Homo sapiens: one gene and its partners. The protein of the gene in region 1 purifies or fractionates together with the protein of each later gene. This does not show direct contact. Each region holds a gene or a part of one and is shown in the gene's direction. Other genes may lie near its edges.

What was found.
Region 2: the proteins of SLC2A3 (region 1) and ARRDC4 purify together in Homo sapiens (affinity purification with mass spectrometry; one large-scale study listed by BioGRID and IntAct). This does not show direct contact.
Region 3: the proteins of SLC2A3 (region 1) and AIFM2 purify together in Homo sapiens (affinity purification with mass spectrometry; one large-scale study listed by BioGRID and IntAct). This does not show direct contact.
Region 4: the proteins of SLC2A3 (region 1) and NRP2 purify together in Homo sapiens (affinity purification with mass spectrometry; one large-scale study listed by BioGRID and IntAct). This does not show direct contact.
Region 5: the proteins of SLC2A3 (region 1) and RAB4A purify together in Homo sapiens (affinity purification with mass spectrometry; one large-scale study listed by BioGRID and IntAct). This does not show direct contact.
Region 6: the proteins of SLC2A3 (region 1) and SMIM43 purify together in Homo sapiens (co-immunoprecipitation; one study listed by IntAct). This does not show direct contact.
Region 7: the proteins of SLC2A3 (region 1) and RAB6D purify together in Homo sapiens (affinity purification with mass spectrometry; one large-scale study listed by BioGRID and IntAct). This does not show direct contact.

The regions. Positions count from the first base shown.
Region 1 is NC_000012.12:7,929,421-7,933,427, reverse strand, and holds part of SLC2A3 (solute carrier family 2, facilitated glucose transporter member 3), read left to right. Parts: intron 1-280; coding exon 281-441; intron 442-1,942; coding exon 1,943-2,183; intron 2,184-2,785; coding exon 2,786-2,948; intron 2,949-3,556; coding exon 3,557-3,744; intron 3,745-4,007. UniProt on the Homo sapiens protein: Facilitative glucose transporter. Can also mediate the uptake of various other monosaccharides across the cell membrane. Mediates the uptake of glucose, 2-deoxyglucose, galactose, mannose, xylose and fucose, and probably also dehydroascorbate.
Region 2 is NC_000015.10:97,963,314-97,967,320, forward strand, and holds part of ARRDC4 (arrestin domain-containing protein 4), read left to right. Parts: intron 1-2,286; coding exon 2,287-2,353; intron 2,354-2,581; coding exon 2,582-2,729; intron 2,730-4,007. UniProt on the Homo sapiens protein: Functions as an adapter recruiting ubiquitin-protein ligases to their specific substrates. Plays a role in endocytosis of activated G protein-coupled receptors (GPCRs).
Region 3 is NC_000010.11:70,118,900-70,122,906, reverse strand, and holds part of AIFM2 (ferroptosis suppressor protein 1), read left to right. Parts: intron 1-1,695; coding exon 1,696-1,815; intron 1,816-2,307; coding exon 2,308-2,400; intron 2,401-4,007. UniProt on the Homo sapiens protein: A NAD(P)H-dependent oxidoreductase that acts as a key inhibitor of ferroptosis.
Region 4 is NC_000002.12:205,790,094-205,794,100, forward strand, and holds part of NRP2 (neuropilin-2 isoform 2 precursor), read left to right. Parts: exon of another isoform or gene 1-1,441; intron 1,442-2,141; coding exon 2,142-2,192; intron 2,193-4,007.
Region 5 is NC_000001.11:229,288,003-229,292,009, forward strand, and holds part of RAB4A (ras-related protein Rab-4A), read left to right. Parts: intron 1-726; coding exon 727-841; intron 842-4,007. UniProt on the Homo sapiens protein: The small GTPases Rab are key regulators of intracellular membrane trafficking, from the formation of transport vesicles to their fusion with membranes.
Region 6 is NC_000004.12:121,762,562-121,766,819, reverse strand, and holds the start of SMIM43 (small integral membrane protein 43), read left to right. Parts: upstream 1-1,655; 5' UTR 1,656-1,714; coding exon 1,715-1,906; 3' UTR 1,907-2,003; exon of another isoform or gene 2,004-2,235; intron 2,236-2,947; 3' UTR 2,948-3,056; intron 3,057-4,021; 3' UTR 4,022-4,093; intron 4,094-4,258. UniProt on the Homo sapiens protein: Required for mesendoderm differentiation. Interacts with glucose transporters and promotes glucose uptake. Probably augments the glucose uptake capacity of glucose transporter proteins to meet the energy needs of mesendoderm differentiation.
Region 7 is NC_000002.12:131,361,250-131,365,971, reverse strand, and holds the start of RAB6D (ras-related protein Rab-6D), read left to right. Parts: upstream 1-1,803; 5' UTR 1,804-2,251; coding exon 2,252-3,016; 3' UTR 3,017-4,722.

The DNA.
Region 1 (4,007 bases):
GTATTATCCCTTAGGGGTTAGTTACAAAGAAGCTGGGTTCCCTTAGCAGAGGGCTGGGGTAGACTGTGAACATCGGTGCTGCCACCTACTGGGATTTTCAGGACAAATAGAATTACTATTCCAGCGAGAGTTAACATAAATTCCAATACGTTATCTGCCCCTTCCATTCCTGTCTATTTATTCCCTTGATTCTCTAGGAAGGAAATGATCCCTAATGTTTGTCTTTTGTTCTCATCCAACTGTAACAGTCTGTTCTTCCACCAACCCTTTTATTTTGCAGATCATAAAGGAATTTATCAATAAAACTTTGACGGACAAGGGAAATGCCCCACCCTCTGAGGTGCTGCTCACGTCTCTCTGGTCCTTGTCTGTGGCCATATTTTCCGTCGGGGGTATGATCGGCTCCTTTTCCGTCGGACTCTTCGTCAACCGCTTTGGCAGGTATTGACTAGAAACTGGGCAAGGAAGTGGGCTCTACCAGCCACATTGAGGACAAGTGTGGAGAGTTAGGGCAGGGAGGTGATGATGCCTTTGAATAAGAACACCTTGAATTCTAATCAAGGGAAACCTAGTCCAACTGGCCCCGAATATGACTGCCCTTGCTTGGAGCTCTACTACCCTGGAGAGCTCCCACCCAGCTGTGCAAGAGATGAACTGTGAGTGATTGGCCTTTGCAGTCCAGCTAGGGATAGTTCAGAATTATTCCCTAGTAAACTCAACTATGGGGTTTCTAGAAACATACTTAATTTACAAGGTCCGAAGTTGTTTACTTGTATTATAAATGTTTTTATTATTTTACCCAGGATTGGTAGGAATTATTTTTGTCTATGGCAAATGTGGATAATGACAAAAAAAAAGTCTTATTCTATAGAAGCTTAACAATATGTTTTAGAAGGTAGAATATATTTTCATTTATGACTAATGAAGGAACTGTTTTAATTTGCCAATTAGGCACGGTGTGGTGGCTCACCCCTGTAATCCTAGCACTTTGGGAAACCGAGGCAAGTGGATCAGCTGAGGTCAGGAGTTCGAGACCAGCCTGGCCAACATGGCAAAACCCTGTCTCTACCAAAAATACAAAAATTAGCCGGGCGTAGTGACAGGCACCTATAATTCCAGCTACTCCGGAGGCTGAGGCAGGAAAATCACTTGAACCTGCAGTGGGGGTGCAGAGGGTGCAGTAAGCTGAGATCTGGCCACTTCACACCAGCCTGGGCGAAAGAGCAAAACCCCGTCTCAAAAAAAAAAAAGCCGGTGCCGTGGCTCACGCCTGTAATCCCAGCACTTTGGGAGGCTGAGGCGGGCAGATAACAAGGTCAGGAGATCGAGACCATCCTGGCTAACACGGTGAAACCCTGTCCCTACTAAAAATACAAAAAATTAGCCGGGCGTGGTGGCATGCGCCTGCAATCCCAGCTGCTTGGAAGCTGAGGCAGGAGAATCTCTTGAGCCTGGGAGGCGCAGGTTGCAGTGAGCCGAGATCCTGCCACTGCACTCCAGCCTGGGTGACAGACCAAGACTCCGTCTCCAAAAAAAAAAAAAAAAAATGCCAATTAGATATTCTAGAAATGCAATTGGAATTCACATTTAAAAATCGGTAAAGCAACCTGTTTTACTTGATTATGTTGTTCTTTTGTTTTTTTACCCCCCAAGAAAGAGGGTCTTGCTCTGTCACCCGGGCTGGAGTGTAATGGCCCAATCATAGCTCACTACAGCTTCGACCTCCGACCTCAGCTCCCTGAGTGCCTGGGACTACAGGCGGGCACCATCACACCTGGTTCCCAACTAGAAATGTTCTGATAATAGAAAGTGAAAAACAAAAGTTAGATTAAAAAAAAAAGGGATGATATGAGCCTGGAGAAGAACAGAATAATGAGGACAGAGGAGAAGTTAGGAGCCTCTCACTTTGCTAATTCTACTTTGTCTTTGATTAACCTTACAGGCGCAATTCAATGCTGATTGTCAACCTGTTGGCTGTCACTGGTGGCTGCTTTATGGGACTGTGTAAAGTAGCTAAGTCGGTTGAAATGCTGATCCTGGGTCGCTTGGTTATTGGCCTCTTCTGCGGACTCTGCACAGGTTTTGTGCCCATGTACATTGGAGAGATCTCGCCTACTGCCCTGCGGGGTGCCTTTGGCACTCTCAACCAGCTGGGCATCGTTGTTGGAATTCTGGTGGCCCAGGTACTCTAGAACTTCTCATACTTAATGAGTGTTAGTTTCATGGGTCATTAAAAAAGTTAACATAGGTAAAGCACTGAAGAATATCTGGCACATGTTCAATTACATATGGAAGTTTTAGATAATAGATAGTAGCTGAAGAAGCAGGCTGAGGCCGGGCGCTGTGGCTCACGCCTGTAATCCCAGCACTTTGGGAGGCCGAGGTGGGCAGATCACGAGGTCAGCAGATGAAGACCAGCCTGGCTAACATGGTGAAACCCCATCTCTACTAAAAACACAAAAAATTGGTCGGGCGTGGTAGCGGGCACCTGTAGTCCCAGCTACTCCGGAGGCTGAGGCGGGAGAATGGCGTGAACCCGGTAGGCAGAGTTTGCAGTGAGCCGAGATTGTGCCACTGATCTCCAGCCTGGGTGACAGAGCAAGACTCCGTCTCAAAAAAAAAAAAAAAAAAAAAACCATGCTGAGTAGAGAAAGGAAAAGAAACACAATTTGTTTATTTTTTCACATGGTAAAAGAATGTATGATTTTCTGAACTTTTTGTGTTTTAATGAACTTGTGGCCTGTGAAGTATGGGGTTTATAGCATTATCTTTGTGTGGTTTCTAGATCTTTGGTCTGGAATTCATCCTTGGGTCTGAAGAGCTATGGCCGCTGCTACTGGGTTTTACCATCCTTCCTGCTATCCTACAAAGTGCAGCCCTTCCATTTTGCCCTGAAAGTCCCAGATTTTTGCTCATTAACAGAAAAGAAGAGGAGAATGCTAAGCAGAGTGAGTATCCTTCACACCTTACTACATGAATTATATGGTTGTGGTTTGTTTTAGGGATGATTGTACTGGACCTACTTTCTGTTACACTCTTTCCCTGCCTCTCAGAATCCAAGTGAGGAGGGTTCTGATTACTCCTGAGTAAAATTTTCAGCCCCTAAAGAATGAGGTGAAAAGGCGGGTTTAGGAATGGATGCTATCAGGCAGGGTGTGATGGCTCATGCCTGTAATCCAGCATTATAAGAGGCCGAGGCGGGTCACCTGAGGTCAGGAGTTCAAGACCTGCCTGAAACAACATGGAGAAACCCTGTCTCTACTAAAAATACAAAATTAGCCGGGCATGGGGGCGCATGCCTGTAATCCCAGCTACTTGGGAGGCTGAGGCAGGAGAATCGTGTGAACCCGGGAAGTGGAGGTTGCAGGGAGCTGAGATCATGCCATTGCACTCCAGCCTGGGCAACAAAAGTGAAACTCTGTCTCAAAAAAAAAAAAAGGAATGGATGCTACCCATCACCTCACCTCGTGCGGCCCTTTCCTGGCTGCCTTACAGGAAGAATGAATTTGGGGCAGCACATTCTCTTTTATCCTTTCCTCTTTCTTCTTTTCACCAGTCCTCCAGCGGTTGTGGGGCACCCAGGATGTATCCCAAGACATCCAGGAGATGAAAGATGAGAGTGCAAGGATGTCACAAGAAAAGCAAGTCACCGTGCTAGAGCTCTTTAGAGTGTCCAGCTACCGACAGCCCATCATCATTTCCATTGTGCTCCAGCTCTCTCAGCAGCTCTCTGGGATCAATGCTGTGAGTGTGATACTTTAGGGTCAAACGTGTCTTAAAGTATTTCACTTAAAATGCCGGGCATGGTGGCGGTGTGCCTCTGTAGTCCCAGCTACTCAGGAGGCTGAGGTAAGAGGATCACTTGAGCTCAGGAGTTTCAGGTTGCAGTGAGCTATAATTATGCCACTGCATTCCAGCCTGGGAGACAGAGTGAGACTGTGTCTCTGAAATTTAAAAAAAGGAAAAAAAAAAAAGACCCTGGAAGGACACTGGCAACTTCAGAGTGA
Region 2 (4,007 bases), on another chromosome or scaffold:
AAAAACAAAACTTGAGAAAGAGGAAAAGAAAACAAAGATTGAATTCCAAATATTATAACCCATTTTTATCAGTTTTTCCATTTCTTTTTCCTGTTTATGTTTTGAGATAGTTGAAAGTCTCATTTTAAATGATATAGATCCGATGTCGATTTGTTGCTTAATGAAAGGGGAACTTCATGTCTCTCATTCTCTTCAGTATCCTGGGCAACTGTGTTCCCCACAAATGCCTGCCATGCTCTTCCTCATGCTATTCCCTTATCTAAATTTCCCTTCCTATCTGTCTCCATTCCAGCCCTCAGGTCCTGAAGATGTCGGGCCCACCCATGTTCCTATGTGGGTGCTCTAGGTTCTAGCACTCCATGGTCATTGCTTGTGTACAAGCATGTAATCTCCTTTCCTCCCCCGGTCTCTTTGAGGATTATCTGCGGTGCCTGAAATCTAAGCACTACACATTTTAAACTCAAATGAAATACACATTTCAAAACATTTGTAAATACTTCGTCATGTTCTGTAATCTAGTAATTTCAAATTAGAACTTTAGCCCAGCTCTTTTAGGAGCACTGGGATTGCCTTGAGCCTTTCACTCCACAGCTGTCAGGTCGAGATGCTTCCCTGGTCCCTGCTCTGCTGCTACCTTCCTGAGCACACGTCAGCCACTGGGACCCGCCCTGCCACTGAATTTAACATGATCTCATGCCCCTGTGACTTGTTCTTCACTTTGCCTCCAGTCACCCAACTGTGGAGTATTCAAATTGACTTAAGTGGCAGGTGTGTCACTTTTTTATCCCCCTTGATGTTAACACATTAAAAATTGGGGATAGATTCAGAAGACCTAATAGGTCAGTAATGTGTTCCTATTTTCTAAAAGTACGAAGTTGAAATGTCAGCTGACTTGGTTAAGGTCATAAAATAAAACTCTATTTTTTTATTTAAGGGATAAAAAATTCCCATTTCACTACTGATTTCTTTAAATTTTTTTTTTTAGTGAATGGATAAAGTAGAAATCTTCATTTTAGTGTCAGATGACCAGGCAAATCTCAGAGTTCTGTCTCTGTGTTCCGATTTCTTCATCTTATTTATCCTATCCACAATAAGGGAATTCAATATTAAATCTGAGCATGAAATGAAAGGACAGTGTATAAGTCTCTCAAGAGAGCCTCCTGACCAACCGTGAAAGCCATGAAGTCTACTTTGGATCTGAATTAAACAGATTGTCTTGGTGCCTTCATCAGAGGTTTCAGTGGTGCCTCTGGCCTTACAAAGTCCCTCCACACCCTGCATTTTGGCCTTCTCACAATCTAGTGATAAGCTTCTGCCTGAAATAAAATGGAGCTGGTAACCCAAAGCTGAGAAAAGGGCCCTGGCCATGCTTGGTAAAGCCCTTTCTGTATTCCAAGTTAGCCACCAAGAAACTCTGTGTTAGTCAGGAGAGCTCAAGGATACATACATGACTTGCTTAATAGCTTGTCTTGTGGGTTTGGCTGTTTTGTGTTATACCCAGTATTAATGATATTCATAAAGTTTTCACTCCCTTTTCCATTTCTGCTCAAAGAATACTCAGTGTGATGTTTCTGGTATACCCAAAATAAATCTGTCTTTTGCTAAATTAGTTTTTGGTCCAATTTAATATTGGTATTTCCCGTTAGTATAATAGAATGGGGGTAAGCAGTTGTGATTTTTACATACACACACACACACACACACATATACATATCCATATACACATATATATGTATGTTGGAGTTCTGAACCTTAGCACTTTAGTAATTGGTCTATTTGAGAATGGAATATATGTGTGTATGTATGTGTGAGTGTTATGGTACTTGGTAAAAACTGGCCAAGTGCAGTAGCTCACCCCTATAAGCTTAGTGCTTTGGGAGTCCAAGGTGGGAGAATCGTTTGAGGCCAGGAGTTCGAGACCAGCTTGGGCAATATAGCAAGACCCTCGTCTCTGGAAAGAATTATTAAAAATTAGTCAAGAACCATGGCACATGCATATAGTCCCAGCTCCTTGGGAGTCTGAGGCAGGAAGATTGCTTGAGCCCAGGAGTTCAAGGCCGTAGCACTCTGGCCTGGGCAATAGAGCGAGACCCTGTCTCTAAAACACATAGACACACGCACACACACCCCCCTTCAAACTTAATTCTCTACATTTGTTTAATGAACTTTTGGAGTATGCTGCATTTTGTAGCGAGAAAAACTTCCTTCAAAAAATTATTTACATTGTGAAAACTCTTGATCTAATACTAACTATCCTTCATTAAAATAAAATACAATCTCTTATAGGTGAAGGCATCATTTTATTACAGCCTGGAAAACATGAATTTCCATTTCGCTTTCAACTTCCATCTGAGTAAGTGAAACACTACAATTTTGTGGTTATCCTTCTCTGCAGTATGTCCATTCAAGTTTATCACTGCTAGGTCTCTTCTGATTCTCAAGTATGCATGTTTACACTGAATAGTCCCTAAATAGACTTACTCTTTTTTTATTTCCAACCTAAAACATTTTAAACCATGCTTTTTTTGGCTTTGTTTAACTGAAAAGTAAACTCATAATTAATGTCTTTGGTTGGTTTCAGACCTTTGGTCACCTCGTTTACTGGGAAATATGGAAGCATTCAGTACTGTGTGCGGGCAGTGTTGGAACGACCCAAGGTACCTGATCAGAGTGTAAAGCGGGAACTCCAGGTTGTTAGTCATGTCGATGTCAACACACCAGCATTATTAGTAAGTTCTTCCTTTTTCTCTTCCTCCTCCTTTTCCTCCTTCCCTCCCTTCCTCCTTCCTTTCAACAGTGGGATCTATATTTAGCCAGTTTACTGGTAGTCTGTCCTGTCACTTTCTGATGGCTTGGAAAACACAATCTTGTAACCCAAAGGCATTCACTATAAATATATGATTCTAGGTTGGACAAATTACAAATTGTGTGTGTTAATACTATTGATTATGTCCCTGCTGTTCAGGGCTTCTTTTGCCAAAAAGTTACACAGGCTTGAAATGCATTAATAAGGCTTAATAACAATAATGCACACACAGAGAGTAGTTACTTTTACCAGAGTGGCCACATTTACAGGACTGGGGTATTCTAAACTCCTCAATAATAGCAGGTTGAGGAACAGTAATTATGGAAGAGTATTAATCATGCTCAGCCTGTTATTGAAGCTCAGGCCATTATGCTATGTATCCTTCCATTTTGCATGTCATTTTCTAACATTAAGTAAGTGCATGCAGCTGCCGCCGAGATCCTTTCACTTATCATTTCCTTATGACAGATTTGGCCACATTAAAGCATTGAACTTCTAATAATCACCAGAAATACTGTAGACTGATAAGAAAGATCAGGCTATAAGTAACAACAGAATAGGCAAGATGGGAGCTAATGAGCTAGATTCTTTTATCTAAACCCATATTATCAAAATAATATAAAATTATACCTTGTACTTTCATGATAGCTACTAGGACCTAATGGTTCTTCATTTAAATATGAATGAATGATTTTTTTTACTTCATAGAAAATACTGAGATAATTTAAACTTTCCATCACGATACTGATGTGACAAAGATGTATTTTTCATGTTGGAGGTTTTTCTAGCCTGTGTTTTTAAAGACAAGGAAAAAGCTAGCAGTTAGAAGTTGTTGTTTAAGTCTTATTTTCGCATGAGAAAGAAATAGAATTTAATGTTCACCTTTAGATTATGAAAAGATAGCAGATATGCTGTGGTTCCATGGCCTCTTGTGGTCAGAATCATAAAACAGCCGGCACCCAGCTGGCCTGGCTTATAGCTGGGACTTTAACAGCCGCTTGAAAACCATTTTTGAAAAATTGGTGATGCCAAGTAGCTTGTATTTTTAAAAACTACTTAGAATTGGGAGGCTGAATATTTTTAAAGTTTTTATGACCATTGTGGGAATTGATTTAAAGGGATTTGTCTTTGCCAAAAACAGACACTGTTGATCCCTTACGATTCTTTATATAAATAAAAAAAAAATATTGCAAGTAACTGG
Region 3 (4,007 bases), on another chromosome or scaffold:
TAATTCCTGCATGCCAGGCCCTGTTTGTAGCCTTTACGTAAGTCTCATGAATGTTTACCGTGCCTCTATGGCGAAGGTGGTATAACTTCATTTTACAGAGAAGCTAAAGGGTTAAATGGCTTGCTTAAGATCCCACAGCTGGTAAGAGACTGAACTAGGATTTGAACCCATGCAATTTTAGCCCAGAGCCCATGCTCTAAAAGCCAGCGTCCCAGACAACTCCCAGGCCTGGCCAGCCCTCGGCTCTGTCTAGAACAAAAAGGCACACGCATGGTCCCACATCCCCCGGATCGGGACGTCACTGGGGCAGAGGTTTCCCTTCACTCATTTGTGTGTTCCCCCACCTCACATGTGCATCATGGAGCCTGGAACACACCTGCCATGACTTCAGCTCCATCGATAAGCTGCCACCAGCTCTGGATGAGTGTCATGTCCAGCCCAGCCCCATTTGGTGTTTGAAGCTAAGGGGGCGTTGACAAAAGGAAACACAATTCCTTTCCTTGATGAGTTGTGATTTCGTGTGACCCAGCCCTTCTTGAATTAATGGGGCCAGATAGTTTCCTGGTTGGAAAGATTACTGAGTGTCCCCTGGTCCTGCAGTCTCCAGCCATGCGTTTCAGAGCCCTGGAAGATTCCATGAGGGCATCTTGGAGGTTCAGGGGAAAGTAGGGGCTGAGTGGAGTCCAGGCCCTCCAGCCCCTCCCATTGGAGCAGCTCTGTTTTTGTCAACTTTATATATTTAGGCTCCAAACAAGATTTCCTTTTCTTTGTTTACAATTTTTTTAATTAAAAAAAAATTTTTTTAATTGTTTTTGAGATGGAGTTTCGCTCTTGTTGCCCAGGCTGGAGTGCAATGGCATGGTCTCGGGTCACCACAACCTCTGCCTCCCAGGTTCAAGCGATCCTCCTGCCCCAGCCTCCTGAGTAGTTGGGATTACAGGCGCATGGCACCACGCCCAGCTAATTTTTGTATTTTTAGTAGAGATGGGATTTTGCCATGTTGATCAGGTTGGTTTCAAACTCCTGACCTCAGGTGATCCGCCCGCCTTGGTCTCCCAAAGTGCTGGGATTACAGGTGTGAGCCACTGTGCCCGGCCTAAAATTTTTTTTATTTTTAATTTAAAAAAATTAAATTATTTTTTAATAAAATATTTAATAAAAATTAAATTATTTTATTATTTATTTTTAATTTAAAAATTAAATTAATATGGGGTCTTGGTATGTTGCTCAGTGCAGTGGCTGTTCACAGATGTGATGCCACTACTGATCAGTCTTTCTTTCTTTCCCTTTCTTTTCTTCCTGGCGGAGGCAGGAGGAGGGTTCTTCTAAAACACCCGGGAGGTTCTGAGCTAACTCCCGTGGGCAGTGTCCTATCCTGCAGCCCTGCCTCCTGCTTCCAGGCACCCCTCCCACTGCCATGCTGGGTGGCTCCAGTTGCCCCCACATTCTCCACGCGGAGGTAAACTCTACTTCCTTAGGTCTTTCCCCAGGTTCTAGTGCCATCCTTTGGGCTAACCAGTGTGGTGGTTTCACCCCCTCCCATGGGGGCTGCCTCGGGTGCCTAGAGGGGCCTCTTTGCCTGGTTTGTCCCGGCTGGCAGGCCGGGAGTAGGATGCAGAGGCCTAGGCCTGCCCTGCCCTGCCCTACCCTCATCTTTTTTTTTTTTTTTTTTTTTTTTTTTTTGGTTTCTCTCAGGCCCTGCCCTTCTCTCATCTTATCCTGGCCACGGGCAGCACTGGGCCCTTCCCGGGCAAGTTTAATGAGGTTTCCAGCCAGCAGGCCGCTATCCAGGCCTATGAGGACATGGTGAGGCAGGTGAGCTGTGCACTGAAGGCATGGGGCAGTGTGGGCAGATGGAAGGACAGCCTTGGGGATGCCTAGGCCTGCAGCTGGGAGGCCACGGGGTTACTCAGAGCTGCTGGCTGTAGCCATAGAGTTGGAGAGTCACTAGGAAGAGACTTTCCTGGGAAGAGACCTTGAACTTGCTGCTGGAGCCAGGATGTGAGCACCCTAAACCTGCTCATGTTGCCCTTGGTATGTCTCTGACTTTCCTCTCCTGGGGCTTTTCACGGGTCCCTTCCACTCCTGTTTTCATAAGGCTCTGTTTTGTAGAGCAGGCTTAGATCCACAATCTTCCACAGCAATTCTGCGAGGTGGGTGGGAGGAAGCACGTTTGGACTCAAAATGTGGAAAGGGTTCTCTGCCCTCCTTTGGCCCAGGGAGCCACACCACAGGCTGAACCAGCAGACAGAGGTGGATGTGTAGGTGTGTTTCATATGTCCCTGTTTCACATGTCCTCTTCTCCAGGTCCAGCGCTCACGGTTCATCGTGGTGGTGGGAGGAGGCTCGGCTGGAGTGGAGATGGCAGCAGAGATTAAAACAGAATATCCTGAGAAAGAGGTGAGCCAGGCTGCCTTGCCTTGGAGCTCTAAGTGGTTGGCTTTTTTCTGCATTATCTTAGGAACATCAGGAATTTGCTCAGGGCAGAGAAGTCTGGAGCTCTATTCACATAAACTGGGAGTGTGTATTTCTGTTTTGTGCCAAGGTGTGATTCTATAGGGGATTTTTCCTGCAGAGCTGGGATCCTGCTGCACCTGACCTTACGGAGCTGCTCAGGGTGTGTCCTTTCTCAAGGAAAGGTCCTGCCCTCTGCTCCAACTTGGAGGATCAAGCCCAGGGGCAATACCTTGCAAAAGCGGAACTTCTGTGTCACCTTCAGAATTCAGGCCTTTGTGATACAAATGTATATTTGATTACCTCTTGCTGGCAACCAGTATTTGATTACCTCTTGCTGGCAACCAGCTTGGACAAAGACACCTTCAGTTGTTGCTTTGGTCTCTGCCTGATATGGTAGCCCCTGCTCTGAGCAGCCCCATGGTGGTGGGGAGCCTGCAGCAGAGCCCTTTCTGCCCACGCTGGGCAATGACTGAACAGCACTGCCTTCTGCCCATGGGTGGGAACGGGGAGGGGACATCAGCCTGCCCTGTTGCTTTCTCATGCTCAAAAGACAGAGATCCTACCGGGCAACCTAGCGAGAAAGAGGAAATCCTGGCACCCTGTCCAGGCTTGGCAAGGGCTGAGTGAGAAACGTCCTTACAGGTCCTCTAGGCGAGAGCTTGCTTGCGGTTGAAGCCAGATCGGCTTCTGAGAGCCATGTGGGGCCTCTGAATGGATCTTTCTTCCTCAGGGAAAGGCAGGTTGGTTTTGAAAAGAAAAATCAATAGAGGATAACTTAATTATATGGCTGTTCTCTGACAAATTGTTGGAAATTATGATGAGTGATTGATCTAGTTACATTCATTCATTTTGATGTATGAGGGTTCTATAGGGAAAAACCAAACTGTTTTTCTCCCTACTCACTCCACACTTCTGGGATAAGATGTGTGGGTTTTTCCCCCACTGACCAATTCTCTGACACCAGCTGGGTGTCCTACGGTTCAATTCAATTCTGACACTACCTGGCGTTAGCGCAGACCCCACAGGTCAAGGGCTCAGTCCCACGATCCTGCCCCGACTTCAAACACCAGTTGCAAGTCCATAGGTCCCCAGCTTACCCACGCTTCTGTCCCACTTGGCTACAAGATAGAGATTCTCATGACTCTCTCCTTGGGTTAAATAATTTGCTAGAGCAGCTGATGGAAGCCAGGGAGACAGTTTACTTGCTGTTGCTGATTTATGACGAAGGATGTTTTAAAGGATAAAAATGAACATTCAGATGAAGGGGCACATAGGGCGTGGTCTAGAAGGGTCCTGAGCACAGGGGCTTCTGTCCCCATGGAGTTGGGGTGCATCACTGTCCTGGCATGTGGACATGTTCACCAACCTGGAAGCTCTCTGAACCCTGTACTTTAGGGATTTTTATGGAGGCTTCATCAGGTAGGCAAGGTTGATTATGACCTCAATCTCCAGCCCCCTCTCGTCACTGGAGCTGAAAGTTCCAGACTTCTAAGCTGGCTTGGTCTCTCTGGTGACCAGCGATCATCCAGGAGCCCATCAGGAGTAGCTTC
Region 4 (4,007 bases), on another chromosome or scaffold:
TTATATAAAAAGCCAAGTCAAGCCACTAAAGTGTTCTTCTTCACCTTAAGTAGCCTTTGATTCTCCAGGTGCAGAAATCTCAGCTGCATCTGGGCAATTGATTTCATTGAGTCTTAGAAATGGGCCAATTCTTAGGAAATCATCTCATCCAGTCCTCAACCTCCAGAGACAAGAGGCCGTGATCTCCTGTGATAAAATGTTCTCAAAATCATTAGCATCATTTTACCCTTTTTCCTTTAAGATCAATGCCACATTCACCCCTTTCCAGCCAGTGATCTATGGTATCCTAAGACTTCTTCCCTGAGGGTGTGAGATGGAGCAAGATGGCATTCTAGCCTCCAAGAATTCATCACATCCTTGGCAGAAACAAGATCCCTAAAAGCAAGCATAGGATTTGGCCCAGAAGTCACTGGCAGGAGCCCCGTGGTTCTCATCCTAGGCTGATTCACATATTCTTATCCAGTGTTCTGCCTCTTTTACTGGTGAAGATGTTAAGACATATGAGCAGCCCATCAAACCAATTAATTGTTGGAAATGTGACGGTTTTCTTCCATGTTTTTTTTTTTTTTCATATGGAAAAAAACCCTGTGGGTTGACTTTCACAAGCTCGATTTGATCCCTGTGACAAACACCACCTTCCTCTTGTTGATTCATGTTCACATCTCCCTTCCAAGGAAACAACCTGCTCTGTTGGGGCCTGGAGGAGAATGCAGGGAATGGGCGTTGAGGTGGGGAGGCTGGCGTGGCCTGCAGGTGCCACTTGCTGTGCTTTAAACATGCAAGGAATGGGCTGGAGTTATGGAGGATTAGTGCCATGTGGCATCAATCTTTTAAGTGGGGTCTTGGCAAGTTGTTTTGTGCATCCCTTACTAGGGACCGAGGGGGATGAGAATGTGCTTTAGCACTTTGGCCAGAAATGAGAAAGACTTCTAACATGATTGAAACCATGGCCTCCAGGAAAAGACTGAATTTCAAATGTGACAGTGATGGATCAATGCTCAGTTCAGATCATGGTCAAGTAGATCTTCCCCGAGATGTAGTGCTGATGAAGGAAGCTTTCGGGATGGTCTAAAGTTCTTTTTCTCCCTCTTGTCTGATACTTCAGCCGTTTGGGATTTTGATTTTCTTTTAAGCCTTGATTTTTGGATTTCAATTTATAGTAGTGACTTCAAGATTGTTTATCTGACTTGGTGGAACAAAACTCTGAGAGGGCCATACACATTCACTGGGGCTGTCTTGAGCTGACAGCTTGGAAAGGCATAATTAGCTTGTGAGATAGGAAGAAATGATAAGATGTTGCTCTTTGCCATGCATTTGATGTTCTCTATTAATGTTTTACCATTTTAGACAGATAACTTTCAGTGGTTCTGATTTCTATAAGTTGGACAGCACAGTGAATAGAGAGACCTGTATTATCACCCTCCCAAATTATCATGAAAAAGAAAAAGATAGACAGTGATAATACTGGAGAAAACTCATAGTAAATTAACTTAGCCTGGCTAGTCAGATTGGATGCCCATCTTTGATCTATTCTAAACCACGAAGAAAGCTAATAGGAAAAATAGACTTGGGAAGGATGAGAAATATTAGCACAGATATGTGAAGGTCAACAGGCATTATGACATGCCTTCCATTTCTGCTCTTAAATTAAAACATATAATGATGAAACAAGACTTCCTTAAACTACCATATGTTTACATGAAATCCAGAGGAGAAAGACTCTGATGCTTTTGTGCCCACTGAGATGCGTGCCTATGAAGAGGTGCAGCATGATACACTAAATGGACATCCCAGTAAAGGCAGCTGCTGTTGGGCATAAGATGCCATTGAAGGTGCCTTAAATGAAACCTGTGTTCCTAATGAATGCCAGTCATTAAAAAGGCACAGTGGCAGGGGTTGCTTGGCACTGAAGACCCAGAGTTTCTTCTTAGTTCTGTGTTACTGGTTGTGGTTGGAGGAAGACACAGGTCATCTGAAGGAGAACAATCCAGTAATGTCCATAATGAATGATCTAGAAGTAGAGGTGATTCTCTAGCTGCCTGCCAGAATGGGGAGTCATTCTCGTAAAGATTGCCTCCCTGCCTTTTAGCCATGGTGATAGAACTTGTTATTAACTTGTTTTTATTTTCTTTATATTATAGTGGACATCCCAGAAATACATGAGAGAGAAGGATATGAAGATGAAATTGATGGTGAGTACTGTTATGATTTAGCAGGTAATCGTAAAATTCAAGTTTGGTTATAAAGGTGTCAACAAAAATAATGCTCTGGGTATCGGAGGGCCCAAATCTAGAACTATCAGTCAGAAATATATAAAAGAATCTGGAGAAAAATGAGGGAACCATCAATGGATCTGTCAGGGTCAACTTTAGAGGTTTAGAAAGTTTATTGAGTTCCTCTGCCTAATCTGAAACAGATCCCCTCTTTCCAGTAACTTTTTACCTGGATGGACTTTGAATCTGAATAAACCCTTTACAAGTGAAAGATCAGCTCCTCCATACGTGTCATAGTCTGAATCTTTTGACCTTCTCCCAAAAATGGCCTGAGTGAATGAGCATAATGTGAATATTCTCCCAGACCTGCTGTGGTTTCTGGTTCCCTGGCTTGGGGGAAACCTTCCTCACACTATTCAAGATTCCAATTTGGAGCTTCTTGCAAGATTTCGGTTTCTTTTTCACACTGACCATCTCGTATCTTTATATTTATTCCAAGTTCTATTTTTCCACTGCAAACACATATACTTCAAGAGGCTAGAGGGCTGCTGAGCAAATATGTAGATGTAATTTCTTCCCTCAACTCAGAATAGCACAGGTCTCTCTCTGGGCTTCTCTGAGTACCAGAGTTGATCTCCAACAGACTCAACAGCAAGATTCCACTTAAAGAATAACTGTAGACTAAGATTGATGAATTTAAGAGGAACAGTTTATAGAGCAGCTGCTTTTAACCTGCCTTTAATCAGAAACTTCATGCGTAGTTATAGAAACTGGAGTGACTAACCCAAACAGCACCTTGTTAACTGACTGCAGACTCTCCCTGCAAAACCCAGTCCAACACTCCTTTTATGGGCAAAAGTGCATGACCAACCTACATGGAGAGACCGCAGTAGATCAGGCAGAGGCGCACTGGAATGGAGTAGAAAGGGCAATGGGTAAGGAGGCAGAAAGCCTGATCTCCATTCCTGCTTTAACTGCTTGCTAAGCCTGTGACCTGGAGTGAGTTACCTAGTTGCCTAATTTCTTTAAACCTCAGTTTCCTCACCTATTAAAATATATATAATATCCTGCCTTCTTCATGGGATTATTAGGATATTTCAAAAAATGATGCCCAGATGTGGGCATGCCTTGGCCACAGTGTAGAAACGTAATTAGATTAGTCTGCTAGGGCTTCCAGAACAGAGCACCACTGACTGGGTGGCTTACAACAGACATATATTTTCTCACAGTTCTGGAGGCTAGAAATGTAAGATCAACATGTGGACAGGGTTGGTTCCTTCTGAGGGCTGTAAGAAAGGATCTATTCTAGCTCTGTCTCCTTGGCTTGGAGATGGCCATTCTCCTGTTCATACGATGTTCTCTCATGTGTGTGTCTCAGAATTTCCCCTTTTTCTAAGGATACCACTTTTATCGGATAAAGGTCCACCCTCATGACCTTATTTTAACTTGATAACATCTGTAAAGGCCTTATCTCCAAATAAGGTGGTGAGGGTTAGGACTTCAATATGAATTTAAGTGTCTGGGAGGGGGATACAGTTCAACCAGTAACAATAAGGCACGATGCCTTATTATTAAAGGAGGTCTGATGGCTGGGAAAAATCTGCTGCTTATATGGCCAGGAATACCAAATTAGGAAACTCATCATGTGCAAATAGTCCCAGACTGTCCTTTCATTAGCTTGAGGAGGTTGGAAAGGAGGGATGTAGAGGTTGCCTTGAACACAAGGCCATCCTAGGTGCTGTAAAGCCACCCCAAAGGTGCTGTTAAAATCAGAGCTTACCTAATGTAAGTCAA
Region 5 (4,007 bases), on another chromosome or scaffold:
TCCTGCCCATTCAAATAGTACTAATTTCTCCAACAAATTCATCCCAAATCATTTCCATAGAACACTACGATTAATGAAATCTCAAACACCTGTAGCTTGCATAGGGTTTTGTTTTGGGGTTTATTGGAGGGTGTATTGTTTTGGGGTTTGTTGGAGGGTGTTTTATTTTGGGGTTTTTTGGAGGGTGCTTTGTTTTGGGGTTTTTTGGAGGGTGTTTTTTCTTTGGTTCAATTTTTTTCCTCCTTTTCCCTTTTCCTCTGCTTTTCCTTCCACTCACTGTTATTTCTTTAAAATATTTAACCATTCAAATACAGTAGTTGAAACTGTCTCCACCTCATTACTTACTGAGTTCCACACCTGTCACTGGGCGTTATGCCCTTCAGAATGGTACGCTGGTATGTCAGCAGTCACCATCTGTGAGCATCTTAACAGTGCACAGTTGGATGTGGTTCGGATATGGCAGGGCTACTTTCAGGCATAGGTTTTTAAATGTATCATTTGTTTGGGGGTTTTGAGAAAAATCTTTATGTCTCTTTGAGAATAGGGGCTGTGTGTATTATCTTTAAAACTAAATGCATCTTCTCAATGGAATGTTGGAGAAATGAATGGCTAGAGTAATGTCCATTCCCCATTGATGTAACTCTTGGTTTTAGTGTCACTTGTTTAAATCTATAAGCCTGTTAATGTTCTAAAATTAAATATGCTGTTCTTGTTTTTCTTTTTTAGTCAAAGATGACTCAAATCATACAATAGGAGTGGAATTTGGTTCAAAGATAATAAATGTTGGTGGTAAATATGTAAAGTTACAAATATGGGATACAGCAGGACAAGAACGATTCAGGTAGCTTTTCTCTAACTTAATAAAAATATTTGAAAATTTGATTTAAAATAATTGATGATATTCTCTCAATATATAAGGTCTCACTCCCTCCCCAACACACCCCTTCCTTGTCCTAATCTCAGAAACTTCATTTTTGGAAACTTTGATTGACAAGACAGCTAAAATTTAGGTTAGCTCTCTGCAGCATGGATTACTAAAGAATACAGGAGGATCTCCGCGCAACTGCATTATAATTCGGAGGCTGACCCATTCTCAGGAGGATGTGGCACTGTGTATTGTACAGTATGTTTCTAGATTCAAATCAAAGCACAAGCTTGTTTTTCTGTGTTCCTTTTTTAAAGAAGAACTTTTTAAAACCTTGTGAGGGTTTGTTTTGTTTTACATTAACTAGAGCATGTTCTGATGTTTGATACACACTCCACAAAATATTCTCTCCACACTTTAATTACAATAGGGTCATAACTGAGGCTCAGAATGACTTCAGTCACTGCAAATGAGGTTACATGTTTAGTATTCTGTAACTACTAAAGCAAGAAAATAGATTAATATTTTAGTTGTGGTTTTTGCACAGATGCACAAAGTCAGAACTGATATTCATAGTTTTATAATTCAGTGAAATAAAATCCACCCCATTTGTAAACATTTCACTTGAAGTTGAGTACATGTCGTATATTAAATAATTGAAGTTTGGCTGGGCACAATGGCGCATGCCTGTAATCCCAGCACTTTGGGAGGCCGAGGCAGACCTCCTCACCTGAGGTCAGGAGTTCAAGACCAGCCTGGCCAACATGGTGTAACCCCTTCTCTACTAAAAATAAAAAAATTAGCCGGGCGTGGTGGCAGGTGCCTGTAATCCCAGCTACTCTGGAGGCTGAGGCAGGAAAATCGCTTGAACCCGGGAGGTGGAGGTTGCAGTGAGCTGAGATCACGCCATTGTACTCCAGCCTGGGCAACAAGAGCAAAACTCCATCTCAAAAATTAATTAAGTAATTGAAGTTCAATAATTGCTTCAAAAATACCATAACCACCTTTAATCACCATCATTTTTCTGGAAGCATTGATTAAACATGGTGGATTCAATTAGACATTTATGTCTTCCCTCTCAGAACCCCACTGAAATGTCTGTTAAGTAACTGAAATTGAAGTAACTCAAAAAGGCCAAGATTGAGTGAGTGCACAATTATGATTGAGAGATTTCCAAAAAAATCTTAAAGATAGGAAGTAGATGGTGCTCTGACAGCAGAAGGAGCTCCACCTTAAGTACTGTAATGGGGGAAGCCATTTCTTCCTCTGGAGTCCCAGAAAAGGTCAGGATTTGGAAGCATCAGGTTCTACAGGAGGTAGAGGTTACAGAGGTTCATGTTTACACACGAAATAAGAGGTTCAGTCTTTTACGTTGAAATGGAGTCTAGACTCAAGGTCATAAGGCCCACCTGAGGGCATGGGGTCAGGCCTGAAAAGAGGGAAATTAAGTGAAAATGAAAGCCTCTGGCCCCCAACCCACCTCCCCTACCTCTTCCCTGGTCGCTGGCAGCCAGGTGTGTATGTCCCACATAGGAGAAAGGAGCCTTCTCTGCAGAAAAATGAATAGTCAGAAAGGAAAGGCTTGAAGGTAGTGACATTTTGCTTTCCCAGTCAAACAGCCCAGTCTCTATCCAGTCATCTGAAAGTGAAACCCTCCAAGCCCACCTGCTCCACCCACACATAAAGAGCTTCTTTTAGACTTTTTCATTCCTTGCTCTTAATGATCAGGCAGAATTTTGAAGAAAGTTTCTATAGCAAAAGAGAGAGCTCAAAGTAAAGAAGCTGGAACTTTGAGGGAGTAAGAAAAACACACTAAAACCACAGTATCCTTAGGAAGAAGAGCAGAGATTGCATTGGAGTATGTAATAGAAACAAAGTCATACTTAAAAAGAGCAATCAGAATAATATGTTAAATAAACTCATGGTGAAAAATGGGAGAGATGACATAAAGAATCCTCCAGAATTAATCCAGAAGATGCAATGACTATTAGGAGTTCCAGAAGAGAGAAGAGCAGAGAGAATAATAGAAGAAAATGTTTCACTGAAGGAATGAGATTCCAGATTAATTGGCCCACCTAAAATCAAACATAGTAAGGAAAAAGTCCAGACCAGAGCGTGCCATGTGAAATTTCAGAACACCACAGATGAAGTAAGGAAGACCAGAAAGGTTCCAAGAGGGAAAAAGCAGCCACATATAAAGTGTGAAAAATGGAATTGCTTTGCACCCTTCCACAGCAACATTGGAAGCTAAAAGAAATGGAAGCATTGCCTTCAAAACTCAGGGTGAAATAATTCTTCAACCTAAAATTCTAAACTTAGCCAAACTGTAAGTGTGCAAGTAAAGGCTGAATACCAACAGATGTGCAAGAAAGAGGAGGAAGCCAAGATTATCTTTCTCAGAGACTTCTTAGAAATGTACTTTCTTAGAAAGTTTAGGAGGATATACTTCACCAGGACAAGGGCATGATCCCAGAAAGAGGAAAATGAAGCCAGCAGGAAGATCCAGCTCAGAATGGCACAGGTCTAGAGGGACAGTGAGGGAAGACTAAGACAGCAGTCAGTATGTGATGGCACTGCCCTTCCAGGAGGACCAGGGGAACAAGTGAGGGGCTCTGTAAGAGCTCACGACTCTGTCAGAGCGGGGAAGAAACAGCTCTGAAATTCAGTTTCCTAAACCTTTTGTAGAAATGAGAAGAAAGAAACTGTAAGATCCATGAGTGTAAGGGTTTTTGAGTTTTCTGTTTGTTTCCCCTGTGCCCAGAATAGTGTCTAGCACACAGGGGCGCAGTATGTGCTCTTTTAATGACTTAATTAAAGGAAACCCAGTTACCAGAAAGAGAGAACTCACCTCGCTTGTGGAGAGTAGGGCTCCCAGAGAGGAGTGAGGCAGGAGATGGCTGTGTTTAATTTAGAGACTTTTCGTGACATTTCACTTTAAAACTATCCACATGTATTATATTGGTTAAATTACTTTTGTAAGAAAATGTGGCACATATACACCATGGAATACTATGCAGCCATAAAAAATGATGAGTTCGTGTCCTTTGTAGGGACATGGATGAAATTGGAAATCATCATTCTCAGTAAACTATCGCAAGAACAAAAAACCAAACACTGCATATTCTCACTCATAGGTGGGAAT
Region 6 (4,258 bases), on another chromosome or scaffold:
TGACATTTATATAGCAAAACACATTTTTATTTAACATTTTCTCATTTTTGAGCCTCACAACAAATCCAAGGGAAAGATAAGCAAGGCATGTTACAGATGAGGGGACTGAGAGTCACTGAGCAAAAGTGACCACTGACAGAGCTGACACTAGAATCGGGTCCATGAGACTTGCAGTTCACAGACTGTTTTCATACCACCCTGTCTCTTTGAACCCCTGTCATCCCTGGAGCAGCCACTTATTACAATCTGGGATGTTGTCAGCCCTCATCCCCAGAATTCAGTCCAGGAGGCAATTCTGCATCTTCACAAATAAAGAATAAAATAAAGTTAGGCCTACAAATGGGCAATGATAGCTGGCTGTATTAACAGCTGTCATAGCCGACTCTAAGATGAGCCCCAGTGATCCTTACTCCTTGGCGTTCGTGTCCTTGGACTCCTACCCTGAATAGGGCTGACCTGTGTGACCAGTAGGATATTACAGATCTGATGGCACGTGACTTCTGAAGCTGGCGGTAAAGAGCACTGCAGCCTCTGCTTTGTTTTCTTTCATCACTTGTTCTGGGGGAATCCCGCAGCTGTATTGGAAGCACCCATGGAAGGGAACTGAGGCCTCCCACCAACAACCAGCCCTACCTGGCAAGCAGTGAGTGAGCCACCCTGGAAGTGGATCCTCCACCTCTACACAAGCATTCAGCTGAAGGCAGACCTGGCTGACATCTGAACGGAGCCTCATGAGTAACCCGACACCAGAATCACCCAGCCAGTGCTCCCACATTTCGGACCCACAGAAACTGTGAGAGATGATCAATGTTTATGCTGTTTGAAGCCACTAAATTTGGGGGTAATTTGTTCTGCAGTAATAGATACACTGAACAGCTTTTAAAGCTGCGCGATATGGGCTTTGGGTCACGTCAACCAGATACAGAAAGGCTTTAGGGACTCAAGAAACACTTTGAGTAAACTTGTTTTCCTCTTTTCACCAAATAAACTGAATTTGAGGCCAATATTTGAAATCTTTGTGCTATATAACTTCTGAAATACATTGTATTCTTAATGCGTTTCCAAGTGACCTGTTGTCCATAGAAAAGTACACTCAACACTGAATGTATCTGCTACTCTGAAGAGCAAGACAGCTCGAACTGGAATTCACTCAGACACCTCATAGCACGAAATCATCTCATAGCCTTTCAGACCCCATCTTCACTGCCACCTTTCATTCTTTTGGGTCTCTGGGCCATGACATCCCCTGTCCTTTCGGAAAGCAGGAACGGAGGGATATAACGAAATAAATTAATTGGGAACGCAGCGGAGCTAGGGACCCTACTGGATGTTGGGGGTGGAACTTTTAAATCATTTACAAAACACCAGTCCCGACCTCCCCTGGAAGACTGAGCTGTTACCTCTTCTGGCGTCCGTGCCCGCGGAAGTTCGCTCCTAGGGAAGTCGCTCGCGTCCTCAAGAGCACCTGAGAGGATCTCGGCGAAGCGGAAGGCTTTGGTGCCAGCTGGGAGAGTCTGCGCCGGATTTCCTCAGCTCCTTGGCGCGTTTCCTCGGAGCCGGGGGAGGCAAAGCACGGACCCCGGAGTCGGCGCCCATAGCGGGACGCCCTCGCGAGGGGCGGGAGTGCGGGAGGTGGGTGTGCGGGCGGCGCGCTCGCCCTCCAGCTGCAGCCCGCGCCGAGCGCGCAGGGCCAGCGAGCGCCGGCGCCTCCAGCATGGAGTGGGAACTCAACTTGCTGCTCTACCTGGCGCTCTTCTTCTTCCTGCTCTTCTTACTTTTCCTCCTGCTCTTCGTGGTCATCAAGCAGCTGAAGAACTCCGTGGCCAACACGGCCGGGGCGCTCCAGCCCGGGCGCCTCTCGGTGCACCGCGAGCCTTGGGGCTTCTCCCGAGAGCAAGCGGTGTGACCCGAGTGCGGGCACTGGCGGGAGGGCACCGAGCTGCGCGGGCGCTGGGCTGGGTCTCCGCCTCGATTCTCCGTCCTCGCGGCCTCCCAGCTTCCAGGTGCGGGGCTCGGCGGCTCTGACGGGTCCGTTCCGGCGTGAGGCGCAGGGACCCGCGTCTCCGCTCCTGTGGGAGGCCCGGGGCTCGCAGCGCGTTCGGGTGCCAGGGACGGTGGGTGTATGGGGTCTGGGCTGGCGCTGTGCTCTTCGAGAGGGACCCTAAGCTGTTCCAGGGCTGGGAGAGATGGCGAAAAGAGAATTCGCCCTTTGGAGCCGGAATGACTTTGGACAACTGCAAGCTCTTTTCTGTCCAACTGCATTTTAGTTATACCCAAGGAGTGGAAAAGTAAATTATTCGGATAATGCAGTTTAGCCACTTTCGAACAAAATCGCAGGTTAACCTGAATATCCACATTTTTGAGAAAGACTGTGTGGGCTTTGGGACGGGTGGCAGGAGGAAACGGGGCGCACTTAAAGTATTTTAAATATTGCTTTAAATATTTTTGCGCTTTGAGAGATGGTAAATGGGGTTCGTCTGGTGGTGCTGGGGTGGGGCGTGGGGGAGAGAAGATTCAGTCGTCCATTTGGAGGGAGGAATCCCTTCCTCCCGGTGATCCTTACTCATATTCTAGCCACCAACCACGGTTAGTGCTTGCGGATTGCCGTGCAGGGTAGGTTTCGAATCTGGGACAGCGGATGGTGAACGTTACAGTGAGAGTCATTTGGAAGATGCCTTAGGGTTGGCCGGTACGTGACCTTTTGGGTGATGGCATGGAGGGCCAGCTAAAAGAGGTACTGTTTGCATAGTGTAGGGAAACAGGAAAAAGGACGGAGAGGCGGGTCTGTGGTTTCAGGTTAAATTACTAGAGCTTTTGCAGAAGATGGGCGGGCAGGAGCAAACTCGAGTACCAGTATGCCCTAAGTACCCTCTCGCTAATGTTAGTTTGGGAAATATCTTCATCCTTCAGTAGCTTTTCCCTAGATTTATGTCATCTCTCTTTCTAGAGCCGAGCTGCTGCCCTTGACTGGTGCTCAGGGGACCACAGCTGCAATGACAGTTTGGGCCTGCAAAAAGAAGGCTGGAACAACGGGAGATGGAAGCTTTCTGCAAATGGTAAGTTGGGATGACGCATGGTTTCACGTTGGCCTTAGTTATGACTAAACTTCTAAAGATCCAGGGCCTAAAAACATGTTGGTTCAGGATGGGGGAAATGGGTACAAGGAAGGAAAGGGCACTCTCCCACTCAAATCTGGTGAGCTTCTACCAGATCCACAAAGCCAAACTGACTCCTAACTCATTGCAAGAATCAGTGTCTTAGTAGAGGATTGTGGAAATTTGAATGAGATGTCAGGAGTGTTTGCACTTTTAATAATCATTCGGCCCTTTTGAAAAACAGTGCGGGGGTTCATGGGGTGAAATATGTGATGCAGATATACTCAATCTTCAGTAAGGGAAGATTTGGGTTTAGTCATGTCAGTGTGGGATAAGCTAAGTCATAACTATAGTATTGAAAATACTAATTTTAGACACAAAGACCATATAGAGAGGCTAAAAACAATGAAATACTAAAGTTTGCCTAAGTTGATAATATAAAAGTGAAGTGTAAGACAATTATTTTAATGCTTCAAAGGAAAAATAGTCTCAGGTGAATAATTTTGGCCCAAGACATTAGATAATTTCCCACTTTCTATTTCACTCTCCCCAAATAGGCCTGTTCTTAATGAAGTAAGAGGTTTACTTTAATTATTATGGTATGAGCAAATCCTCACCTCTTTATCAGAGTTATGGTAAGACTTGATTTGAATTCCCAGTTTGAACTCCCTGAATCAACTGCAGTGATTCTGTATTGTGCTTTGAACAATAGTTCTCTAATTGGTTGATATCTCTGCAGTGGCATTTAGTTAAAAGGTTGTATGGTTAATATGGACATTGAAGATGAGTGTGGGAGTAATTAATTAGCAATTATAGTTGTTTGTAAGGATTGAAAACAATCATTTCACACTTTAGAATAACCAGAATGGAAATTATTTTAACCACATGCTTGCCTTCTTGAGTTTACAATCCTTTAATCTTCCTAGCAGCACCACTGGTATCCATGAATTTAACCTGCCCATCATTCTTCCTAAACAAGAGACTATTGAAAAGTCAGGGTGAGTAGTTTATTACCATCTCAGTATTAATCCAATCTCTCAGCTGGTTCTACTGACTCAGGTTCCTAAGAAAGCAGGGGTGCCTTTCTATCTTGTATCCAGGGCCATTTTATTAACTCCTTGTAATCAAATTCATTAATGACCAAGTTCCCATTTATCCAGGCC
Region 7 (4,722 bases), on another chromosome or scaffold:
ACTTCCCGGGCTCAAGTGATCCCCCCAACTCAGCTCCCCCAAGTAGCTGAGAATACAGGCATGGGCTACCACAACTGTCTAATTTTTTATTTATTTATTTATTTTTTTTTTGGAGACAGGGTTTTGCTCTGTCACGCAGGCTGGAGTGTAGAGACATGATCTTGGCTCACTGCAACTTCTGTCTCCCAGATTCAAGCATCTCTCGCCTCAGCCTTGGGAGTAGCTGGGGACTACAGGTATGTGTGGGTGAGTCTGGGTGTGGGTGGGTGAGTGCAGGTGTGTCTAGGTGTAGGTGGGTGAGTATCGGTGTGTGTCTGTGTGTAGGTGGGTGAGTATGGGTGTGTGCGGGTGTGTGTGTAGGTGGGTGAGTATGGGTGTGCAGGTGTGTGTGTGTGTATGTGTTTACATTGTGGTATGTGTCTGTTGGGTGCCGCCGTTAGGGATTTGGAAGAGTGAGGACCATAAACCTGTAAACATTTCTACATGCCTGCTCCACAACAAGTGTACCAAGCATGGTCAAAAGTAACTAAACCAAGTAAACAAATTAGACATTAATTAAACTTAATGCTGGGCAGGAAAGAAGTATTCAAGGCCAGGTAAAATGAAGAAATATAACCAAATAAATGAAATTTTAAAATTAGTAGAATGAGACAGAAATATTTTTAAAAGTTTTTAATTTCTGGTGAATATCAGTATATAAAACTAAGAATTATATGGCTGTCAATTGACTAAAAACAGTACTTAAGATTTCAGCTAGTGAAATAGCCATATATGATCTTGTAATTCCATTTTTCTGTCTCAAGAATGACTTGTTTAAATAATTTTTTTTGAATTGTTACATTGTCATCTTGAAAGAGCTTCACAAAACTTACATGAGAATCTGGATTGTCATAAGAGGTCTGAGTTTTTAATGGTATGTTCGTATTTCTGTTATGTACATTGATGTCAAACATTCATTTCCTGAGCTGTTCTCCAGAACACAATTTGACTTATAATGAACACTCAATAAATGGTTGGTTGGATAATCAAATCAACACCTTAGTTTCATCAATTTTCATTTCATATAAAAGTGACTGATCTTCTATACTCATCAATGAAACAGAGAGAGATGAGGGAGGGATAGCAGTGGAGACTAAGAGGATGACAAGCAGACCTCATTCTGCAGTGGATATCCTACACTCTCCACTTCTCAATGCTTGGAAACACTTGCCATACTAAAAAAATTGGTATTTCCTAGGCAGAAAATGGGAGTTAAAGAAAGTCCATATTTCTATACTACAATAACTTACACTATAATACATGGACGACATACATTTCTAAGCTATTCACTTCATAGAAAATGCAGATACATTTAGGTGAGCAAGATGCAGGAGAAGGGTTAATAATCAGGCTGAGTGTGATTGTGAGATTCAGTCTAATATCTTGATACAATTCTTGTGTAATTGTATCAGTTGACATATCTGTTCAAATGCAAGGCGGGAGAGTTTTGCAGGAGCTCCTGAAACTTCCTGCATGATGTTAGGAGACAGGTTGGTCCATGTGATTAGGCCAGATGTGTTTGCTTAATTGTGGCTTAGGAAAGTTAAGTTTCTGACCTCTCACAGAAACTGGGAGATAGGGACGCTAAATTTTATAACATTTCTGTTTAATATATATTTAATAATACATAATAAAGTCTTTAAAATGTCAATTTTGTCTTTTTTCTAGTTTGCAATATTTTGTTTTCACCGCCCCATTGTTTTTAGTACATATGTTTTGTGTATTTAAAAAAATGTGTGGAGGCGCCCTGGCTCGCCCCGCGCCAGAGGCTCGCGCACTCAGCAGGTTGGGCTGCGGCGGCGGCGGCTGGGGAAGCCGAAGCGCCGCGCGTGAGAGATCCCAGATACGTCTGCGGTTCCGGCTCCGCCACCCTCCGCCTTTCTCCCGCAGGTCTTGGAGCCGGGTGAGGAAGAAGGGAACGGCCCTAGCCTTGGGAAGCCAAAGCACACCCCTGGCTCCTGCCGACACCGCCCTCCTTCCCTTCCCAGCCGCGGGCCTCGCTCGGTGCTCGGCTACTCTGCCGGGAGGCGGCGGCGGCTGCCAGTCTGTGGAGAGTCCTGCTGCCCTCCAGCCGGGCTCCTCCACCGGCCCTTGCAGGGGCGCAGAGAGCTCGGCGCCCGCCCTTCCGCTCGCCTTTTTCGTCAGCCGGCTGGAGCAGCATCGGTCCGGGAGGTCTCTGGGCTGAGGCGGCGACAGCTCCTCTAGTTCCACCATGTCCGCGGGCGGAGACTTCGGGAATCCGCTGAGGAAATTCAAGCTGGTGTTCCTGGGGGAGCAAAGCGTTGCAAAGACATCTTTGATCACCAGATTCAGGTATGACAGTTTTGACAACACCTATCAGGCAATAATTGGCATTGACTTTTTATCAAAAACTATGTACTTGGAGGATGGAACAATCGGGCTTCGGCTGTGGGATACGGCGGGTCAGGAACGTCTCCGTAGCCTCATTCCCAGGTACATCCGTGATTCTGCTGCAGCTGTAGTAGTTTACGATATCACAAATGTTAACTCATTCCAGCAAACTACAAAGTGGATTGATGATGTCAGAACAGAAGGAGGAAGTGATGTTATCATCACGCTAGTAGGAAATAAAACAGATCTTGCTGACAAGAGGCAAGTGTCAATTGAGGAGGGAGAGAGGAAAGCCAAAGGGCTGAATGTTACGTTTATTGAAACTAGGGCAAAAGCTGGATACAATGTAAAGCAGCTCTTTCGACGTGTAGCAGCAGCTTTGCCGGGAATGGAAAGCACACAGGACGGAAGCAGAGAAGACATGAGTGACATAAAACTGGAAAAGCCTCAGGAGCAAACAGTCAGCGAAGGGGGTTGTTCCTGCTACTCTCCCATGTCATCTTCAACCCTTCCTCAGAAGCCCCCTTACTCTTTCATTGACTGCAGTGTGAATATTGGCTTGAACCTTTTCCCTTCATTAATAACGTTTTGCAATTCATCATTGCTGCCTGTCTCGTGGAGATGATCTATTAGCTTGACAAGCACAAAAAAAGTCAGCGTCTTCATTATTTATATTTTACAAAAAGCCAAACTATTTCAGCGTATTCCAGTGATAACTTTAAAAATTAGATACATTTTCTTAACATTTTTTTTCTTTTTTAATGTTATGATAATGTACTTCAAAATGATGGAAATCTCAACAGTATGAGTATGGCTTGGTTAACGAGCAGTATGTTCACAGCCTGCTTTATCTCTCCTTGCTCTTCTCACCTCTCCCTTACCCCGTTCCCTATTTCCGTGTTCTTACCTAGCCTCCCCCCACTTCCTCAAAACAAACAAGAGATGGCAAAGCAGCAGTCCGACCAAGCCCACTGGAATTATCCTTTAATTTTACAGATACCACTTGCTGTAGGCTGTGGACCAAGATGTCCAGAATTATTCTTGAGCACTGATATAAATTACTTAGATCCTCTTTGAGGTCAGAATTCAGCGATCACGGTAGGCAGTGCTTGAATGAGAAAAGCCTCCTGGTGCATCTTCAAAATGAGTCCTAAAGAACATACTGAGTACTTATAAGTAGCAGAACATAAAATGTATTTCTGACTAAAACAAATGGTCCTTTCACATGTGCTTTATTAGACTCTGGGAGAGAAAATTAACCAAGTGCTTCAGAACAGGTTTTTAGTATTTAATTCTTCATGGTAAGATAATGACGTTCTAATGAACTATTTCTCCCAAGGTTTTAAAATTGTCAAGAGTTATTCTGTTTGTTTAAAAAATAAGAAACCTCTTTAAGCAATAGATTTTGCTTGGGTTTTCTTTTTTTAAAAAATAATACTATGCAGGCAAGACACCATAAAAGTTTAATTCCTTACAGAAGAACCAGTGGAAGAATTTAAATTTGGCACTACGATCAAAACTACTGAATTAGCAGAAATAACGATATCTAAAGCTTACCAACAAAAGAACCCTCAGCAGAAGAGCAAAAACTTTGCTCAGGACATTTGAGGTCAAATTGAAGATGGAAACCGGAAACCATTTTCTTGTAAGCCCCTAGAGGCAGATCAGGTAAAGCATACATAGTAGAGGGAAAGGAGAGAATGGAAATAAAACTGAATATTATGCAGATTTATGCCTTATTTTTTAGCATTTTTTTAAGGTTGGGTCTTTCAGGCTGGTTTTCGTTTGTATGAGATCTGTATAGTTTAATTAACTAATGATTTAGTTTTATATTTAAGCTACGATTAATCTTTTTTCTTTGGTGATATTTCTTTGCTTTTTTTTTAACAACTTTCAATTTTTAGATGTTTCGTTGAATCTATTTAGAGCTTCACCATGGCAATATGTATTTCCCTTGAAACACTGCAAACAAATATACTAGGAGTGTGCCCTTTTAATCTTCACTAGTTATTGTGAGATTGCTGTGTAAGCTAATAAACACATTTGTAAATACATTGTTTGCAGGAAGAAAACTTCGAGTTATAGGTCAGGAAAAGCCTGCTGAATTTATGTTGTAAACGTTACTTAACACAGTATAAAGATGAAAAGACAACAAAAATATCTTCATACTTCCTCATCCCCTCATTGCAACAAAACCTTAAACTGGGAGAACCTTAGTCCCCTCTCTTTCCTCTTCCTCCTCCACTTCCCACTTATTGTCACCTTGTAATATTCAGAGAGCACTTGGATTATGGATCTGAATAGAGAAATGCTTACAGATAATCATTAGCC